5 separate regions of the Homo sapiens genome follow, and all the other regions are reported to be linked to region 1. Evidence: microRNA targets listed by miRTarBase, many of them from high-throughput screens and not tested one by one. Region 1 holds a microRNA gene; each other region holds the end of a gene's coding sequence.
Evidence for each region. The annotated mature microRNA hsa-miR-939-3p reads CCCUGGGCCUCUGCUCCCCAG and lies in region 1 at 1,284-1,304, shown strand. An mRNA with a match to its seed (bases 2 to 7 or 8) in the 3' UTR can be bound and repressed. Matches are read on the target gene's strand: a 7mer-m8 pairs with bases 2 to 8, a 7mer-A1 pairs with bases 2 to 7 and ends in A, and an 8mer does both.

Region 2: the mRNA of HIP1 is a reported target of hsa-miR-939-3p. Seed matches in the 3' UTR shown: 7mer-m8 at 1,664-1,670, 7mer-A1 at 695-701 and 7mer-A1 at 535-541.
Region 3: miRTarBase lists UBXN2A as a target of hsa-miR-939-3p. Seed matches in the 3' UTR shown: 7mer-m8 at 2,065-2,071 and 8mer at 3,097-3,104.
Region 4: miRTarBase lists CLPX as a target of hsa-miR-939-3p. Seed matches in the 3' UTR shown: 7mer-m8 at 2,011-2,017 and 7mer-A1 at 2,811-2,817.
Region 5: miRTarBase lists CFAP107 as a target of hsa-miR-939-3p. Seed matches in the 3' UTR shown: 7mer-A1 at 1,010-1,016, 7mer-A1 at 1,424-1,430, 7mer-m8 at 1,624-1,630, 8mer at 1,987-1,994, 7mer-A1 at 2,856-2,862 and 7mer-A1 at 3,156-3,162.

The regions. Positions count from the first base shown.
Region 1 is chr8:144,391,260-144,395,464 of GRCh38, reverse strand. It overlaps MIR939 (microRNA 939), which reads left to right and starts at 1,235; the gene lies at 1,235-1,316. It overlaps ADCK5 (aarF domain containing kinase 5), which reads right to left. Exons shown (of 15, transcript NM_174922.5): 6 at 4,191-4,205; 7 at 3,991-4,104; 8 at 3,754-3,885; 9 at 3,599-3,682; 10 at 3,443-3,524; 11 at 3,295-3,373; 12 at 3,120-3,211; 13 at 2,768-3,020; 14 at 2,573-2,689; 15 at 2,223-2,496. The coding sequence ends at 2,391. CPSF1 (cleavage and polyadenylation specific factor 1) reads left to right here. Exons shown (of 38, transcript NM_013291.3): 27 at 1-30; 28 at 110-200; 29 at 283-367; 30 at 442-583; 31 at 669-821; 32 at 910-1,086; 33 at 1,165-1,231; 34 at 1,305-1,352; 35 at 1,427-1,582; 36 at 1,669-1,798; 37 at 1,875-2,013; 38 at 2,100-2,234. The coding sequence ends at 2,147. RefSeq lists a silencer at 1,123-1,284.
Region 2 is chr7:75,535,754-75,539,958 of GRCh38, forward strand. It overlaps HIP1 (huntingtin interacting protein 1), which reads right to left. Exons shown (of 31, transcript NM_005338.7): 30 at 3,570-3,678; 31 at 1-2,471. The coding sequence ends at 2,419. Among named protein-coding and RNA genes, the nearest start is that of SPDYE5, 46 kb to the left of the region's middle.
Region 3 is chr2:23,998,967-24,003,171 of GRCh38, forward strand. UBXN2A (UBX domain protein 2A) reads left to right here. Exons shown (of 7, transcript NM_181713.4): 7 at 706-4,205. The coding sequence ends at 901. Among named protein-coding and RNA genes, the nearest start is that of MFSD2B, 9.0 kb to the right of the region's middle.
Region 4 is chr15:65,148,297-65,151,296 of GRCh38, reverse strand. It overlaps CLPX (caseinolytic mitochondrial matrix peptidase chaperone subunit X), which reads left to right. Exons shown (of 14, transcript NM_006660.5): 14 at 384-3,000. The coding sequence ends at 474. Among named protein-coding and RNA genes, the nearest start is that of PDCD7, 16 kb to the right of the region's middle.
Region 5 is chr1:12,759,953-12,764,157 of GRCh38, forward strand. It overlaps CFAP107 (cilia and flagella associated protein 107), which reads left to right. Exons shown (of 4, transcript NM_152290.4): 4 at 818-3,747. The coding sequence ends at 999. Among named protein-coding and RNA genes, the nearest start is that of PRAMEF12, 12 kb to the right of the region's middle.

The sequences.
Region 1 (4,205 bases):
CACTATGTGGCTTACCACGTGGAGTCTAAGGTCTGCCCCCACCCCCACCCCACCAGGGACCTTCTGGGCCTGGCCGGGCCACTGGTGTGTGACCCTCACTAACCCACAGGTGTATGCTGTGGCCACCAGCACCAACACGCCGTGTGCCCGCATCCCACGCATGACTGGCGAGGAGAAGGAGTTTGAGACCATCGAGAGAGGTGGTGACGCCCACACCATACTCCCATCCTCAGCCGCATCTTGGGGAAGCCCTACTCTGACTGTCACCCTTGGTCCCCACAGATGAGCGGTACATCCACCCCCAGCAGGAGGCCTTCTCCATCCAGCTCATCTCCCCGGTCAGCTGGGAGGCTATTCCCAATGCCAGGTGAGGCTGGGCCGGCGGGGGTGGGGTCTGCCCAAGGCCTCCAGGCAGCATCCTGAGGCCCCTGGCCCCCACAGGATCGAGCTGCAGGAGTGGGAGCATGTGACCTGCATGAAGACAGTGTCTCTGCGCAGTGAGGAGACCGTGTCGGGCCTCAAAGGCTACGTGGCCGCCGGGACCTGCCTCATGCAGGGGGAGGAGGTCACGTGCCGAGGGCGGGTAAGGGGCCAGTGAGCGGGGGCGGGAACTGGCAGCCCCTCTGCCATCCCCACAGCCATCCCACAGCCATACCCATGCCCTCCAGATCTTGATCATGGATGTGATTGAGGTGGTGCCCGAGCCTGGCCAGCCCTTGACCAAGAACAAGTTCAAAGTCCTTTACGAGAAGGAGCAGAAGGGGCCCGTGACCGCCCTGTGCCACTGCAATGGCCACCTGGTGTCGGCCATCGGCCAGAAGGTGTGCCAGTCCCACCCGGCGTGTGTCCCCCGGCTCACCCTCACCCGGCTCCCCGTCCGCGCCCGCTCACCCTCGCCCTCGCCCCCAGATTTTCCTGTGGAGCCTGCGGGCCAGCGAGCTGACGGGCATGGCCTTCATCGACACGCAGCTCTACATACACCAGATGATCAGCGTCAAGAACTTCATCCTGGCAGCCGACGTCATGAAGAGCATTTCGCTGCTGCGCTACCAGGAGGAAAGCAAGACGCTGAGCCTGGTGTCGCGGGTACACCTGTGGCGGCGGTGCTCGTGTCTGGGTGGGTACCCGCCCAAGGCACCTCTGACGCCCCCTTCCCGCCCCCAGGATGCCAAGCCCCTGGAGGTGTACAGCGTGGACTTCATGGTGGACAATGCCCAGCTGGGTTTTCTGGGTATGTGGGCAGGGCCCTGGGGAGCTGAGGCTCTGGGGGTGGCCGGGGCTGACCCTGGGCCTCTGCTCCCCAGTGTCTGACCGCGACCGCAACCTCATGGTGTACATGTACCTGCCCGAAGGTGAGTGCTTCCTCCACCCCCTCTGCCTGGGCCGGGGCTGGGCTAGCAGTGACCCCTAGGCCTTTCTGGTCTAGCCAAGGAGAGTTTCGGGGGCATGCGCCTGCTGCGTCGGGCAGACTTCCACGTGGGTGCCCACGTGAACACGTTCTGGAGGACCCCGTGCCGGGGGGCCACTGAAGGGCTCAGCAAAAAGTCGGTCGTGTGGGAGAATAAGCACATCACGTGGTTTGGTGAGTGTGGGGGAGCAGGTGTGTCTGGGTGGGGGGCCCTAGGGTTGGCCTGGCTCACACCAAAACCCTCACCCTACCCCTGCCAGCCACCCTGGACGGCGGCATCGGGCTGCTGCTGCCCATGCAGGAGAAGACCTACCGGCGGCTGCTGATGCTGCAGAACGCGCTGACCACCATGCTGCCACACCACGCCGGCCTCAACCCCCGCGCCTTCCGGTGAGCCCCGGCCCCGCCCCCGTGCAGCACCCCCTCCACCCCAGCCTGCCCTGACACCTGTGCCTGTACGCCCCAGGATGCTGCACGTGGACCGCCGCACCCTCCAGAATGCCGTGCGCAACGTGCTGGATGGGGAGCTGCTCAACCGCTACCTGTACCTGAGCACCATGGAGCGCAGCGAGCTAGCCAAGAAGATCGGCACCACACCAGACATAGTGAGTGCGCGCCCCGCCCCCCGCGCGCCCCGCCCCTCCGTGTGCATCCCCACCCACCCACCCACCCACCCTTCCATCCCCTGCAGATCCTGGACGACTTGCTGGAGACGGACCGCGTCACCGCCCACTTCTAGCCCCGTGGATGCCGTCACCACCAGCACACGGAACTACCTCCCACCCCCTTTTTGTACAAAACACAAGGAAAAACATTTTTTGCTTGAGAGGAGTGTGTGGTCATTACACGGCCTCCTGGCCCAGCTGCTGTCACAGCCCCCCAGTGCGAGTGCCCACGGGGCTCGGGGTGTCTACACCTCTAGCCCCGCCACCTCCGTCAGCCCAAGGTGAAAAGGGCCCCGCCGGCCCTGGGCGGCTGCACCCTAGGTCTCCAGGTACTGGTAGAGCTCCTCCGCTGGGGGCACGAGGCTCAGGTGGACCAGAGCACGAGCCAGGAGGGCGGTCAGCCGCATGGCCAAGGTCTCCAGCCTGCGTGGGTCAGGTCACAGGTCACAGGTGGGTGGGGAGCAGGCCCCCGCCACCCACCTGCCCCGCGGCCACTCACCTGAGCGCCACTTCAAACTTGAGCATCTCCCAGACGACCTTGGCGTGGCGCAGGAGGCTGGTGCCGTAGACACCCCGATACGTGGCGCCCGCCAGGCGGCTCCAGCCCCGGACAGCCCTGCACACACCCGCGTTAGCGCCGCGTCAGCCCCACACCAGCCCCACCACGGCCCGGGCGCCTCCTCGGGCCACCGACCTTTTAGCCATAAGGAAGTAGCGGTCCACGGGGGCGCCGAGGGCCACGTTGATAGCGCGCACGGTGTTGATGTTGCGCAGCACCAGCAGCATGGGCCGCGGCAGCTCCCTGAGCACCGCCATGACGGCCTCGAAGCGCTCGCGGGCCATGTCCACCATGTAGGCCGCCTCTTCGCGGCTCAGTAGGTGCGAGCCCCACAGCTGCCCCAGGCGCACGGGGCGCTGCATGAGCATCTCGGCGAACAGGAGGTAGTCTGGGGAGGGAGGGAGGGAGGGAGGGAGGGGGCTCTGAGTGGGTTCCGCGCCGCCCGACTCCCTTCTGTGGTGCCCCAGCCATCCCCGCACGCCCTCACCTTGCACCCCCAGTGCGGCTGCGTGCGCCCTCATGGCGGCGTCGTCCCGCAGGATGATGGCCCGCCACAGCTGGCAGAGGGCTGCGCGGTCCCTGGGTGTGGATGGGCCCGCAGCCATGAGCTCCCTGCGGCAGGAGAGGCTTGCCCTGCCCCACGCCCACCCACCCGCGCTCACTTCTCCTCCAGGAACTGGTAGAGCCCGTGGTCCAGCAGCACCAGCTCCGCTTTCCCGTCCGGGCCTTTCCGCACCAGAACTAGGGATACAGCCTCTTAGGTCGCGCTGCGCCCACCCTGAGACCCCCACCCCTGGGGTAAATTCCTACCGTTGCCAGGATGTGGGTCCGAGTGGATGAAGCCGGTGTAAAATATCTGCTCAGCAAAGGCCTTGATGAGCTTTTCTGCTATCTGGGGAGAGGAGAGGCATTGCAGTGGACACAGCACCAGCCCGCCCTGACCCGCCCCCGCCCCCCCGCACTCACGTCATGCACTGCCAGCCCCTGGCTCCTGATGGCCTCCACATCGTTGACCTTGCAGCCGGCGCAGAAGTCGGCAGTGAGCACGCGCTGGGGAGAGCAAGAGGCTGGGCTCAGCAGGCCCAGCGCTGTGCCCACCCCAAGGGCCTGGCCCAGCCCACCTTGCTGGACTTGTCCCAGTGCACGCGGGGCACCACGACGTAGGGGAAGTGCGCCAGCTCCCGCGCACAGCGCTCTGCGTTGCGGCCCTCATTCTCGAAGTCCAGCTCCTGGGCCAGGGTCCCCTTCAGGTCCTGGGGGCCAGATGGCGGTTGAAGACCAGCTCTGCCTACCAGCTGCTCCTACCAGCTCTGCCTACGTGTTTGCTCCTGCTGGCCGGGGAAGGGGTGGGGCTGTACCTGGAGGACCCAGCTGAAGCCAAAGCTGGGGTGCATGACCTCAACGAGCCGCAGCAGGAGCTCCAGGGTGTGGATGTCCCCATCAAAGCGGTCCCGCAGGTCGATGTACTGCACCTGCACTGGGCGAGGGTGTGGTGAGAACTTGGGGCCCCACTGTGCCCCGCCCCAGCCCACTGCTGAACAAGGCAGCCCCCATATACCTTCACAGCCACGCT
Region 2 (4,205 bases), not on the chromosome of region 1:
CAGGCTGGAGTACAATGGCGTGATCTCAGCTCACTGCAACCTCTGCCTCTGGGGTTCAGGTGATTCTCCTGTCTCAGCCTCCTGAGTAGCTGGGATTACGGGCACCCGTCACTACGCTCGGCTAATTTTTGGTATTTTTAGTAGAGATGGGGGTTTCACCATGTTGGACAGGCTGGTCTTGAACTCCTGACCTCAGGTGATCCTACCACCTCAGCCTCTCAAAGTGCTGGGATTACAGGCGTGAGCCACTGTGCCCGGCCACCCCTTGGTAATTGGGAACATATGAGTTAGAATGGCTGAGATCTAGAAGTGAGGACTAGCCACTTTTGGAAATGTTGACCCGCATCAAGAACACACCGATTGGTTTAGTTGCCACAACTGGGACAGGGAAGCCACGCACCATTCCTTCTGAGCCTTGAATCAAAAAAATACTAAGCAGAAAGCAGCATTCAACATTAAGACTGCCCAATTTCTAGTGCTGATACTTCCTTAGCCCAGTATGGAGGTCACACGTCTGAGTATGGTCATCCGAGGTCCTGGGAGAGAGTTTTTTGAATGTCCCACTTAGAAAATGCACAGAGAGGGAGTTGGGGAGGGGGGTGGGCTAGGGAGATGGGGGTTGGTTCACAGTGATCAAACAGAAGTCTCACAACCCGTCATGTAGCAAAACCTAGCAATATTCTGTTGGAGCAGATCCTGGGAAGTGCTTGATGGCTACCACCAATGAGTTGCTATAGATAAAGAAGGAAGACGCTGTTTTTCCAAGATCAGAAGGTCACTTAAATGCTGGGGTCCATCTAGAAGAGGAAAAGTGCTGTTGGGCTGCCCATCCCTGGCAAGCTGTTCATGTGCCCTCTGTCCTCATCCTGTCCACAGGGCAGCGAGAGCCTGGGGCATGTGGCTGAAAGGAGTTGGAGCCGCTGGCTCTGTCCTTTCTCATTTTCTCTGACCCAAGAGCTCCAAATGATCTCCTTGCTTTGGGATCCAAGTCAGTAACAGTCCAGCACCTTGGCCTTTCTTCTGATTCTTGAAGGCTGATGTAGCCGGGCAGAAAGATGAGCCTTGCTAGAGTCACACCTGAAGTTCTGATTGCTCCAAGCATCTCTTTGTAGGCTGTTGCTGCTTAAGGGAGGTTAGTAATAAATACTAAGGGTAGCAAACCAAGTATAGGGTTCTTCCCTGATGGGAGCAATTGCATCTGATCTTCCGGGTTTGTCAATTGCGTAGAAGGTGGAACGATCTTCCTATTCAAGAGGATGCCAAGGCAGACGTCTGCAGAAAGGAGTTGGGAATCACTCCCACACTCCGTCTCTGGGCCAAGGGAGACGGCCCGCTTGACAGAGACCATTCACGGACAGTTCATTCCGGCAGGGAAGTAGTGTTGTTGATCTCACCAGCTCCATTCAAGCATGTGATCAAGTTTTTGAGCCTCGTCACGGGAACTGGGCTGTGTGAACCCTCTTGTCCCTCTTTCTGTTGTCTTCTCCCTTGTAAAGGCGGACAGAGGCTTTCCGCCGGGATTCAGCTTTAGGAGGGAAAGGCACTCACTCTCCTTCTGCTTTTTGAGGAAAGCTGTCACTCAGCAGCTCCGCCTGACCCTGGAGCATGGACTGGGTGGGCCAGCACTTGGTCAGTGTGGAGGCGGAGATGGAGCACCGAGAGGCCTGGGCAGCACCATCGCTGGAGCTACCACAGTTGGGGGGCCCTGGAGACTCAGCCCCAGGGGTGTGCCCTTTGGGAGAGTTGGCTATGTGAGTGAAACTTAAAAAAAAAAACAAAACCAAAAAACCCAACCAACCACCATAAGAAGCAGTGGAAATCCATGGCACTGCCCAAAGAGGGGGAGAATGGCTTTGGCATTCACAGCCAGGACACTCCTGCCGTCCTTCTGACTGTGCAGATCTCAGGGTAGTGTCCTGGTTTGGAATCCATCAGCCCTCTGATGCTCACAAGTTTGTGCAAATGATGAAACTGAAAAGACTGAGAAGAAAACAGAAAAGAAAAGGCATAAGATCTTCCCTTTCCAAGCTGTCAACAAACAACAAGCAGCTCCTCTATTAAGGATACCCATTGTTGTGGGGGTCAAATAGTCAGCAGGACTGGATGTTGGTCCTCTCTGTTGAGTGGCCCTGCCCCCCACCACCCCTCTTCGTACCTAGGCTTGCTCATGGGCAGCACTGGCCAGCCTGGATGCTAACTAGGGAGGCGGGAAAAGAACAGAGATGACCATGGGTCCAAACAGAAAGGGTGTCGCTATGGAGGGAGTCTTTGGAAGTGTCATGCATGTCCTCGGCACTGGGTAATGGCAGTGGTGTGGCTGCCCCTGGGACTCCAAGGATTTGGCCTGTGGCTGGGGAAATAACACACACGAGATAGGTAACAAGGATTTACACTGACATATGGGGTGTTGGTTTGGCTCTATTCTTTTTCGGTTACCACTTCTTGCAGTGTAGGTGGAGATGCCTCTGTTCCTAAAAGACAATGATAATTTATGTTGCAAAGCACTCATGAATGCATTCATTCACTTAACCAACAAAACCTGCCACCATGGGGGCTCAAAAATACATTATAATTATAACCATGGTGTAATCACATAGTCCCCAAGTTTCGTGTCTAGGAATGACTAGGATCTGTCTATGGTTGGTGCCCAGAGTCAGTCAAGTCCACTAAGAGTGAACAGTCTTGGCTGTGATCAAGTTGACTGCTTTCGACATGCAGACAACAACATATAGACTCGAGGTGATGGATGGCAAGTCTCTGGGCTGGCAGCCTGAATGTGACTCCATGCCACTCCATTTCTCAGCACCTGATCCCTTCTTTTTTTTTTTTTTTTTTTTTTGAGATGGAGTCTCGCTCTGTTGCCCAGGCTGGAGTGCAGTGGCGCGATCTCGGCTCACTGCAAGCTCCGCCTCCCGGGTTCACGCCATTCTCCTGCCTCAGCCTCCTGAGTAGCTGGGACTACAGGCGCCCACCACCACGCCAGGCTAATTTTTTGTATTTTTAGTAGAGACGGGGTTTCACCGTGTTAGCCAGGATGGTCTCGATCTCCTGACCTCGTGATCCGCCCGCCTCGGCCTCCCAAAGTGCTGGGATTATAGGCGTGAGCCACCACGCCCGGCCTAGCACCTGATCCCTTCTGTCTTTTGGCAATTGTTGCCCTTCACTGGCTCTAGATAGACAGAACCTTGTAATTCACTTGTCCCTGTCTGCCAGATCTCGACTGACCACTATTTATTCATTTTTCAACTCTCTGCTGGCCAGAAACTAAATTCCCAGGGAGTTGGCAAGGCTAGCTGGGCCTGGGAGGGAATGGCAGTGAGTGAGTTATGATCAATGTTTAGGTCTTAAAAGGTGACAACAAAAGCTTTCAAATCACCATAACTTCACCCAAAGTTAGGCTTAAAGGTTATTTACAACGGAAGAGAAAACAGGTTCCATGAGGAGAGAAGAGAAGGAAGAAGCCACCGATCTGGTGGGTTCCTTGTTCTGTTCCATTCTAGGGGAAGGCCCTGGCCACACAGCTTCCCCTCCCTGCTGCGGGTTAGTGCCCATCCTTGGAGTCAGCTTACCTTCTTCCCAGCCCTCAGCAACACCAGCAAGCTCGTAGTGCTTTTTCCGAAGCTCTCCCAGTTTTTGACGCTCCTTCTGCAATTCATTTTCTAGCTCTAGCACCCTAACCTGTAAGGGAAATTAAGTGGGATTTTCTCTTAATCATCTCTCAGAGATTTAATTTTTATTTATTTTTTTATAGAGATGGGGTCTTGTTCTGCTGCCCAGGCTGGTAGTGAACTCCTGGCCTCAAGAGATCCTCCTGTCTTGGCCTCCCAAAGTGCTGAGATTACAGGCATGAAACACCATGCCCAGCCTACATCTATCTTATTTTGATTACTCCCTTTCTGCTGCATTGTGAATTCCTCTTCTTCCATATTATTCACCGTTTCCATACTTTATCTGGCCCTCAATTTCAATTCTCTTCTTTGCTCTAATTTTTCCATTCTCCCATTCATTTATCTATCCCAGTAGCTCTTATGCTTTACTCACTGTGATCTTCTACTGGAAGTGAATGATGCTTTACAAATGCCTAAATGGTAGGTGGGCTTATCTTCTGTTCCTCTGAGAAATCACTATCTAAAAACAACTCTAATGTTTAGCCTAACTGTATGGTGAGTACCAATCTAGTTGTAACCCTTCTTCAATCCCAGTTC
Region 3 (4,205 bases), not on the chromosome of region 1:
CATAAGCTTTAACCTTTAGTTATCCAATTTTTGGTACCCAAATGAATACACAGGACTGGGTCTTAGACTTTTTTGGTAGCCCTTACAGGTTTAATAAAGTGGCACGTAGTGAATTTTAGTGAATTGATTGAATGAGAGAATTCTTTCTTTAGTGATAGGCATATTTCATTAATTCTGAGTTGCACATTTTTTCACATTTTAGCATCTGTGAAATGAGGATGCATTCTATAATCCATGGCTACATGACGATCATGATACAATTGTGACAGCCTCTGTAAAACATAGCCATAATTCCTTTGTCTTACCTAAGATAATTAACAGTAGTAATTCATAGTACTAATTATCTTACCTAAGATAATTAACAGTAGTAGTAGTATTGTCATCAAATTTCTGGGAGTCAAACTTTAAAAGATAGCCCAAATAATCAGTTATATCATAAATTCAGTTATTCTATATATTAACATATCCAGAGTCTGGGTGTTGTGGCTCATGCCTGTGATCTCAGCACTTTGGGAGGCTGAGGCAGGAGGATCAGTTGAGCCCAGGAGTTATTATGATGGCACCACTGCACTGCATCCTGGGTGACAAAGCAAGACGCTATCTCTAATAATAACATATCCAGATACTTTTACCAGTTGTTGTTACTATAAATTAGGTAATTCAAATTTTCCTAAAATTATATTAATAGTTTTTGCTGTTTTACAGAGTAAGCCATATCAAAGACTTCATTGAAAAATACCAAGGATCTCAAAGAAGTCCTCCGTTTTCCCTGGCAACAGCTCTTCCTGTCCTCAGGTTGCTAGATGAGACACTCACACTGGAAGAAGCAGATTTACAGAATGCTGTCATCATTCAGAGACTCCAAAAAACTGCATCTTTTAGAGAACTTTCAGAGCACTGATTTTTGATAGACTAAGTGGAAAATTTGCAGAGAAATGATGGTTGTAAGTGGACATGCAAACCAAAATTGGGGATTGGAGAAGTCAGACTCACTAGACTTTTGGTTCGAGTACTATTGAACTCTCTCCTGATGAGAAGATGTTTAGATAAGTACAAGTTAAGAAAGTAGCATATGACTGGAAACTATATTCAGTGCACTTTCTCCAAAAGACTACCCAGAAAAATAGACTTATTTTCAAATACCAGTTATCAAGATATATTAAATAGCTGTATTGTTTAGAATCTTAATATGGTATAAATTAGCATATGTATTCACAATATTCATTCAGACATCATTCCCAGACAGCAGGGATTTATTTAAATGTTAGCTGTCTGAGTTTTTAAATAGCTAATACGACCGGGTACAGTGGTTCATGCCTGTAATCCCAGAACTTCGGGAGGCCGAGACAGGCAGATCACGAGGTCAACAGATTGAGACCATCCTGGCAAACATGGTGAAACCCCATCTCTAGTAAAAATACAAAAATTAGCTGGGCGTGGCGGTGCGCAACTGTAGTCCCAGCTACTCGGGAGGCTGAGGCAGGAGAATCTCTTGAACCTGGCAAGTGTAGGTTGCAGTGAGCTGAGATTGAGCAACTGTACTCCAGCTTGGCGACAGAGCAAGACCCCCTCTCAAAAATAAATAAAATAAAGTAAAATAAATATAAATAATTGTGGCCGGGTGCAATGGCTCATGCCTGTAATCCCAGCACTTTGGGAGGCTGAGATGGGAGGATCACTTGAAGCCAGGAGTTTAAAACCAGAATGATCAACAGAGTGAGACCCCTGTCTATATATTTTTTTAATTTAAAAAATAAAAGAATAAAATTGTGTAGCTCAGTATAGTATCAAGATTAATCTGCCTACTCACATTTCTACACTTTATAAAAATGTAATAAAAGAAAATTATCTTTCTAAAAAGCCTATTCCCTTTCCATTTTATTTTCTTTCAAAAATTATGGATTTGTTTTTGGCTAACATTTGGGATTAGCCATTCATTTGCCACCACTCACTTAGAATATAATGCCGGTGTGTGTCACATTACTAGTATTTTTTAAATGCATCATATAAAGTATGGTTTTCTGTTTCTTTTTCGTTTGTTTGAGATGGAGTTTCGCTCTTGTTGCCCAGGCTGGAGTGCAGTGGCGCAATCTCAGCTCACCACAACCTCCACCTCCCGGGTTCAAGAGATTCTCCTGCTCAGCCTCCCAAGTAGCTGGGATTACAGGCATGCGCCACCATGCTTGGCTAATTTTGCATTTTTAGTAGACACGGGATTTCACCATGTTGGTCAGGCTGGTCTCGAACTCCCGACCTCAGGGGATCTGCCTGCCTAGGCCTCCTGAAGTGCTGGGATTACAAGTGTGAACCACCGTGCCCAGCTGGTTTTCTGTTTCATACATCAGAGTCAACTTGTGAATACATTTAAAGATTATTTCATTTTGATATCACGAAGAAAAACAGGCTTTATATCTCAGACTTTAACTAAATCCAGTTAGACCTCAATTTTTCACTGTCAGATTAAATCCCCATACCTGAAAATAAGTTTAACATTTTTTTTTGCAAATGATCTATTGAATCAGATTTAAAATGAAGCATGCATTGAGTGTGCCAAGGAACTAAGTGGTCCATAGCAGCAGTAATGTTCATAGGGTGCGAGATGCCTGCTATGAAACAGCAACTCTCAAACATTTTTATCTCAAGACCATTTGTTTATGTGAGCTATATATATTATTATATTAAATATTAAATTTTTAAAATATTTATTTATGGGCCAGGCACGGTGGCTTACGCCTGTAATCCCAGCACTTTGGGAGGCTGAGGCAGGCGGATCACAAGGTCAAGTGATTGAGACCATCCTGTCCAACATGGTGAATCCCCGTCTCTACTAAAAATACAAAAAAAATTAGCTGGGTGTGGTGGCATGCGCCTGTAGTCCCAGCTACGTGGGAGGCTGAGGGAGGAGAATGGCTTGAACCCGGGAGGTGGAGGTTTCAGTGAGCCGAGATTGCGCCCCTGCACTCCAGCCTGGTGACGGAGCGAGACTCTTTCTCAAAAAAAAAAAATTATTCATTTAAAAATAACTTCTGGCTGGACATGGTGTCTCACGCCTGTAATCCTAGCACTTTGGGAGGCCAAGACAGGTGGATCACTTGAGCCCAGGAGTTTGAGACCAGCCTGGGCAACAAGGCAAAACTCTATCTATAAAAATTACAAAAATTAGTGCAGTAGCTCACACCTGTAATCCCAGCACTTTGGGACACTAAAGCGGGCAGATCACCTGAGGTCAGGAGTTCGAGACCAGCCTGGTCAATGTGGTGAAACCATGTCTGTACTAAAAATACAAAAATTAGCCTGGTGTGGTGGCACATGCCTGTAATCTCAGCTACTAGGGAGGCTGAGGGAGGAGAATTGCTTGAACTCAGGAGGCAGAGGTTGCAGTGAGCCGAGATTGCGCCACTGCACTCTAGCTTAGGCAACAGAGTAAGACCCTGCCGTAATAATAATAACTTTTTTTTTTTTGAGATAGAGTTTTGCTCTTTCCCCCAGACTAGAGTGCAATGGCGCGATCTTGGCTCACTGCAACTTGTCCCCCCGGGTTCAAGCGATTCTTCTGCCACAGCCTCCCGAGTAGCTGGGATTATAGGCGCCCACTACCACGCCTGGCTAATTTTTGTATTTTTAGTAGAGACGGGGTTTCGCCATGTTGGCCTGGCTGGCCTCTAACTCGTAACCTCAGGTGATCCGCCCGCCTTGGCCTCCCAAAGTGCTAGGATTATAGGCGTGAGCCACTGTGCCCAGCCAATAATAACTTATAAAACATGAAACGATTTAGTGAGAAAAGTGGCCGGTTTTTTGGGGGGAATTACTTTCTGTCATAAAGAAGATAGATGGGTTCTCATGTCTTCTACATTCAGTCTGTTGTGCAGTCACATATCATGTAGACTCTGGAAAACACCTCTGTATACTGGTGAAAGAATGAAAAGAAGCAAATAATGCCTTAGTATGATTATGAAAAACGTTTTGACTTCACAGTGCCCTGAATGGGTCTTGGGAATCTCCAGGGATCCCTCAGGCACACTTTGAGAACCAATCTATATAAAGTGATGGTTCACAATGATTCTGAAGCCTTAGTTTCAGAATCATTTGGGGCAGCTTTTCAAAAATGCCATTCCTGCCACCTACCACAAAGATTCTGATTCACTGTATCTGTGATGGGTCTCAGATCTCTGCATTTTTAATCTCACGTGATTCTTAAGTATGTG
Region 4 (3,000 bases), not on the chromosome of region 1:
TTCGGCTTACTGCAACCTCCACTTCCTGGGTTCAAGCGATTCCCTTGCCTCAGCCTCCTGAGTAGCTGGGACTACAGGTGTGTGCCACCACACCCGGCTAATTTTTGTATTTTTAGTAGAGATGGGGTTTCAACATGTTGGCCAGGCAGGTCTCGAACTCCTGACCTCAAGTGATCAGCCCTCCTCGGCCTTCCAAAATGCTGGGATTACAGATGTGAGCCACTGTGTCCGGCCTAAGCCGTCTTAATATTAAAAGTGCTCCTAATATTTTCTATTATCGTGGCTTTCTTAGCTAGGAGAGGTTACTTTGCTGTTTTGATTTTAAAGATCATGTTTACCTCCATTTTTTATTTTAAAAAAACAAACATGGCTTTTCATTGTAGGGCTCCAACAAAAGAATCCTCTGAAGAGGAGTATGACTCTGGAGTTGAAGAAGAAGGATGGCCCCGCCAAGCAGATGCTGCAAACAGCTAAACTGTCATATTGCTGTCTTGTATATACAGCTTTTCCTTCTTTTGTTTAGGATCATAATTGTCTCTACAGTCTGATATTAAAGGCATTGGATCTATCTTGGATATCATACATGGTCAGAGAAGCCTTTAGGAGAAGAATCAGATCATGTATATAATTGTAACATCACATTGATTTTACGGAAGATGTTATATGGACTTTAATGACACAATGTTTAGAGATAAAATGTACATTATTTTGGTTCAGTTTTTTAAAAAAAATATGCTTTAACAAAATTCTTAGGAATTCTTTTAAGCAATGCAGGTATTGCGATAACTGTAGATTTTACAATAATGTTACTCTACAAATGGGAAAATAAATTCTTTAAAATTGAATATTGAGATACCATTCTTTAGTGTTACCTTTTTTACCCACATGTGTTTCTGAAAATATTGGAATTTTATTCATCTTAAAAATTGGACCAGGTAGGCCGGGCGTGGTGGCTCACGCCTGTAATCCCAGCACTTTGGGAGGCCAAGGCGGGTGGATCACGAGGTCAGGAGTTCAAGACCAGCCTGGCCAAGATGGTGAAACCCCATCTCTACTAAAAATATGAAAAATTAGCTGGGTGCCGTGGCAGGTGCCTGTAATCCCAGCTACTCGGGAGGCTGAGGCAGGAGAATCGCTTGAACTCGGAGGGCAGAGTTTACAGTGAGCTGAGGTTGTGCCACTGCACTCCAGCCTGGGCGACAAAGTGAGACTCCGTCTCAGGGCGAAAACAAAAAATTGGACCAGGTAGTTTTCAAGTAGTTAAACATTTCATTGAAAAATACCCTGAAGAACTATATTTTGATAATTGGTTTAGCTGTATTCCTAGTCTTATCTGCTAATGCATGACACTAACTTCCCAATTGGTTCTGTAAAAAAGGCCATTTTCTTACCAAGTTGTCTGATTTATTTACCATCTTTTTTTTTTTTTTTTTTTTAATTGAGCGGAGTCTCACGCTGTCCCAAGCTGAAGTGCAGTGGTGCGATCTTGGCTCACTGCAACCTCCGCCTCCCAGGTTCAAGCAATTTTCCTGCCTCAGCCTTCCAAGTAGCTGGGATTATAGGCACGCACCACCACACCTGGCTAATTTTTGTATTTTTAGTAGAGACAGGGTTTCACCCTGTTGGCCAGGCTAGTCTGTAACTCCTGACCTTGTGATCTGCTGGCCTCAGCCTCCCAAAGTGCTGGGATTGCAGGCGTAAGCCACCACACCCGGCCTTATTTACCATCTTTAATCCATTTTAGTACTATGGGTGAGTACATGGAATTGAAGTCTGGCTTAAATCTTCAGAAAGTTATATATCTATTTTATTTTATTTTTTTGAGACAGAGTCTCGCTGTGTCACCCAGGCTGGAGTACAGTGCCACAATCTTGGCTCACTGCAACCTCTGAGTCCCAGGTTCAAGCGATACTCATGCCTCAGCCTCCTGAGTAGCTGGGACTACAGGCGTGCACCACCACACCTGGCTAATTTTTTGTATTTTTAGTAGAGACGGGGTTTCGCCATGTTGCCCAGGCTGGTCTCTCCTGAGCTCAGGCAATCGGCCACCTTGGCCTCTGAAAGTGCTAGAATTACGGGCATGAGCCACCGCATCCAGCCAGAAAGATACATATCTAATTCTAGAAATAGCATGCAGTATCAGTCATAGTAACAGCCATGTGCTGACCTAAATAAAATTTCTTGATATTGTGTATTTAACCTGAAGTATTGAGCTAGTTTTTTTGTTTTGTTTTTTGGTGCTGAACATTTTGGTCTAATTCTTTGGCTTCTTAGAACATTTTAAAAAATCTATGTTTTGCTATCAGCCAAAGTAAATGTGTTCACACTAACATATAAGTTACTAACCTTCATTATACAGCAAAGCTAAAAAGTGGTGGGATATTTGGGGTCTTAATGAAAATTGTATCATTTAATTCCATAAATATTAAAATATTTGGGTACCTTTTAAGCTTTTTTTCTTTCCTTCTATAATGGTGGTACAAGTTCTATATTCATTCAGTTTAATCTCATTTGAAATTGTTTAAATCAGAGTACATGTAAATATTTGTGGGTTTTTTTTTTTGGTTTATAGACTCGAGCTTTCCTTTTACACAGTTTTTTTTAGGGAAAAACTAAAGCTATTAGGAAATTCTAAATCTTGTTGATGAAGAGTTGGGCTTTCTTTGATATAATTAATAAAAGGGATGTATGGTATTTATGGCTGGGTAGGACCAGAAATGCACTTTGTATTACAGAGTGTTAAGGCTGGTTGCTATAGTATGGAACAGAAACACCTCTCCTTGGTCTCCCTAGTAATGGTTCAAGTTCTTCCCAGGAAGTCTTACATATTATAACTTTGTTCATTATCTTTCCCTTATAGCATCATTTTCCTTTTTGTAGAGTGGAAATCAGACTAGCTGCTAAACATATTAAGGTTAATCCTCCAGAAATGTACTGGGGAGGCATTTTAGTCACAACAACTTACATTTGGCTTTGGAAGTTGTTAACAAAGCATAGTCG
Region 5 (4,205 bases), not on the chromosome of region 1:
TGTGCGCTATAAAGAAAACAGGTAATGGAGAGAAAGTGAGGTGGTGAATTTGTGAACCTCCTTTGGTTCACAAATTCCTCCTTGGAAAAGTGAGGGGTGGTCTTTGTTGAGGAGATAGAGTTGAATTGGGAAGAAGGGAGCCATACAGGGATTGAGGGGGAGGACATTCCAGAGGAAGGAACAGTAAATGAAAAAGTTCTAAGGCAGGAATGGAGGAGGATCATGTAGGGGTTCATAGGGCACAGTGAAGGGAATGAAATTTGTCCTATCCACAATCCCAAGACTTGGAATGCACTTTTGTAGGAGAGTGCCTTGATGTGATTTACATTTCAAGCCACGTCCACACTAGTGAGGACACAGAGCAGTGCCAGCTCTTTGTGGTCCTACCTTTTGATGCAAAGGGACACAGGTCAGAGGATGAGCTGCTGGTCACTCTGCATTACTTTTGCATGGGATTCTTCTCAACATCACTCTCAGTGCACACAGCTTCCTTCCCGACAGGGGTGGGACAATTACTCAGGACCAGCGAGGCCACGCACAACCACACCATGGGGCTGACTTTTCCAAGGCCCCCGTGGCAGAGCCTGATCTCCCCTGAGCACTTGGGATGCAGGTGCACCTTGAGACCGCCAGGGGCTGGCTGAACCAATGCTCTCTGCAAGGCTCTTCCCTGTGGGCCTCTGCCAGCCTTGGTCCCTGACAGAGCAGCCTGGGAAAATCTCCAGGGCCCCTGCTGCCCAGTCTCGTGGCCATTGGCCATTTAGAGCAAGACTCCTTCTGTAAGCCCCATTCAACTGGACCCTGGTTTCTCTTGCAGCTCCCCCTACAAACTATGGACTCTATGAGCAGCTCAAGCAGAGACAGCTCACACCCAAGGCTGGCCTGAAGCAGAGCACTTATACTTCATCCTACCCCAGACCACCGTTGTGCGCTATGTCCTGGAGGGAGCATGCGGTCCCGGTCCCTCCCCATCGCCTGCATCCTCTCCCACACTTCTGAGAGCTGCCACCCCAGGAGCAGCTCAGATAGAATCAGCTGGAGACCACAGCATCACTGGACTTGCCAGACAACAAGTGGCGCAGATAAACTCAGAGTACGAGATCTGGCCCGTCAAAGGTGCTCTCAGAATCATCATCTGCATTTGGCGGTACCTGTCCCCCCTCAAAACCCACAGGTTCCTTTCTTTTCCATCCAACAATTAAAGATCTTTGACACTATTGCAGGGCTATGTACGTGCACAAGACAGATTCAGACTGTCAGAGAAAACAGGAAGGGCCCTTAAGTTCTACCCTGTTGTTTCACAAGAGGGGAAACTGAGGCCCGGAGAGGTAATGTGACTTGCTGAAGAGTCTACTCCCATGGAGGAAATGAATCTGATGATGAAACCCATCATGAAAACTCCACAGAATGACTGAATGTGGTTCCCAGGAGGGCAGTGCTGCAGAGCTGGCAATGGGGAAGGACCCCAGCTTGTCTGTCATTGCCAAGGCAGAGGAAGGCGTGCTCTGGCCCCACGGGGCTCAGAAGAAGGGGAAAACACATGGCATTTCCTTTGTCTCTGAGCTCGCAAATCTTTGTGTTTTTTTTTTTGTTTTTTTTTTTGAGACGGAGTGTCGCTCTCTTGCCCAGGCTGGAGTGCCGTGGCACGATCTCAGCTCACTGCAACCTCTGCCTCCAGGGTTCAAGCGATTCTTTTGCCTCAGCCTCCTGAGTAGCTGGGACTACAGGTGCGCACCACTACGCCTGGCTAATTTTTGTATTTTTAGTAGAGACAGGGTTTCACAATGTTGGCCAGGCTGGTCTCGAACTCCTGACCTCGTGATCCGCCTGCCTCGGCCTCCCAAAGTGCTGGGATTAGCAGGCGTGAGCCACCGCACCTGGCTGAGCTCTCAAATCTTTATGAGCCTGGGCAGAGGGGAGAACCTCTGGTGAGTGATTTGGGAGAGAGGGTGGATCTCCTAGCAGAAGAACTCAGGCATGGTCCTCGCCCAGGACAGGGGTCCACAAGTGTGCATGCTCAGTGCTCGCACAGAGCTGCCTCTTTGAAGAAATTCCAGCAGACACCTTTGGCCCTTTGCATGCTTGGCTCATGGGCACAGGTGTGTTTTGTCAGTGATTTTGTACTGCACACCAATAATATGACTCCCAGTATGGGAGCCTGAGTCTCTGCCATTGTTTTCACAGGATACCTGCTGGCCTCAGGCCACCTACCTTAGGGTCACTTTGGCACCTACTAAGTTCCTTCCTTAGTCATCCAAGTGTCCATGTAAGGACGCTGTCTTCCATCCCAACTGAAAGTCAGAGCCTGACACAGGCTAAGTCCTCTATGTTTGTTGGATGAGTGAATGACAGGAGTTGAACAAATGAGTTGAATGAATGAATGACAGGAGGAGGAGCCAGGGGGTGCAGAAAGGTTGCACCTACCTTAGGGTCACTTTGGCACCTACTAAGTTCCTTCCTTAGTCATCCAAGTGTCCATGTAAGGACGCTGTCTTCCATCCCAACTGAAAGTCAGAGCCTGACACAGGCTAAGTCCTCTATGTTTGTTGGATGAGTGGATGACAGGAGTTGAACAAATGAGTTGAATGAATGAATGACAGGAGGAGGAGCCAGGGGGTGCAGAAAGGTTGCTGCAGGAGACAGCTGTGGGATGGAGTGGAGCTGGCTGTCCTCACACCTCCAACATCCAGCCTTTCTATTGAGCATCCATTGAGCCATGTCTGGGCCAGGCCCTGACCTCACAGAGCCTCAGTCCAGCAGTCAGGGAGGAGCATGAGGTAAATGGCTGCAGGACAGAGAGGTGCTGCAGCTGGAGGCCCTGGGGGACAGCGATGGATTGCGAGGAGTGAGGGAGACCCAGGATATGCTAAGCAGGGGCGTCTAATCTTTTGGCTTCCCTGGGCTACATTGGAAGAAGAATTGTCTTGGGCCACACATAAAAAAATGAACAGGGGCTGGGCGCAGTGGCTCATGCCTGTAATTCCAGCACTTTGGGAGGCCTATATGGGCGGATCACCTGAGGTCAGGAGTTTGTGACTAGCCTGTCTAGCACAGTGAAACACTGTCTCTATTAAAAATACAAAAATGAGCTGGCATAGTGGTTCATGCCTGGAATCCCAGCTACTCCAGAGGCTGAGGCAGCAGAATCGCTTGAACCCAGGAGGCGGAGGTTTCAGTGAGACCAGATGGTACCACTGCACTCCAGCCTTGGTGACAGAGTGAGACTCCATCCCAAAAACAACAACAACAACAACAAACTTACACTAACGGTAGCTGATGAGCTAAAAAAAAAATCGCGTAAAAAAACCCCATAATGTTTTAAGTAAGTTTACAAATTTATGTTGGGCCACATTCAGCCTGCAGGCGGAGGGTTGGACAAGCTTGTGCGAAAGTAAAGGATGTCATGAGAGCAACGGGCAGGGGTTGACGGATGATGAATGAAGACCTGGCCTGCCTAGGTAGGGCCAGGGAGAATCAGGTAGGTCAAGGCCAGAAAGCTGAGGGAGATTACCCAGCTGAAGGGACAGGTTGGGAGGGAAGAGAGGGTGGCTTGGGCCATGGGGGCAACACGTTTGAAGTCTCTGACTTGGGAAGAAGCTGAGCAAATTCCTTAAAAGTCCAGAAAGACCATGCATTGGTCTCCTATTGCTGCTGGAACAAAATACCACAAACTCAGTGCCCTAAAGCAACACATGTTTATTTGACAGTTCTTATTATAAATGTGAATAAATGCACATTTATTCAGAATATCACAAGCTCAGTGCTTTAAAACAACACACATTTATCCTCTTGCAGTTCTCTTATGGGTAAGAGTCTACAGTGGTCCCCAGGGCTGCGTTGCTTCTAGAGGGTCTGGGGCAAATTGTTCCCTTGTCTTTTCCAGCTTCTAGGGCACATCACCGCTCCCATCTTATGGCGCCATCAGCTTGTCGAGAGCCAGCAGTGTAGCCTTCCTTCCTCTCTGTCTCCCCTTACAAGGATCCTTGTGACCACACTGCGCTCCCTGGATAAGCCAAGATAACCCCTTTCTCAAGATCCTTAATTTAATCACACCTATAAAATTCCTTCTGAATCTTAACTAACATAGTCACAGATTCCAGAATGAGGATATGGACATTCTAGAAGGGACGAGGAGAGAAGAGTTCTGTGCACTTGACACCTGCTCAGTCACTGACCCCTCCCCCCACCCCCAATGAATCTGGTCC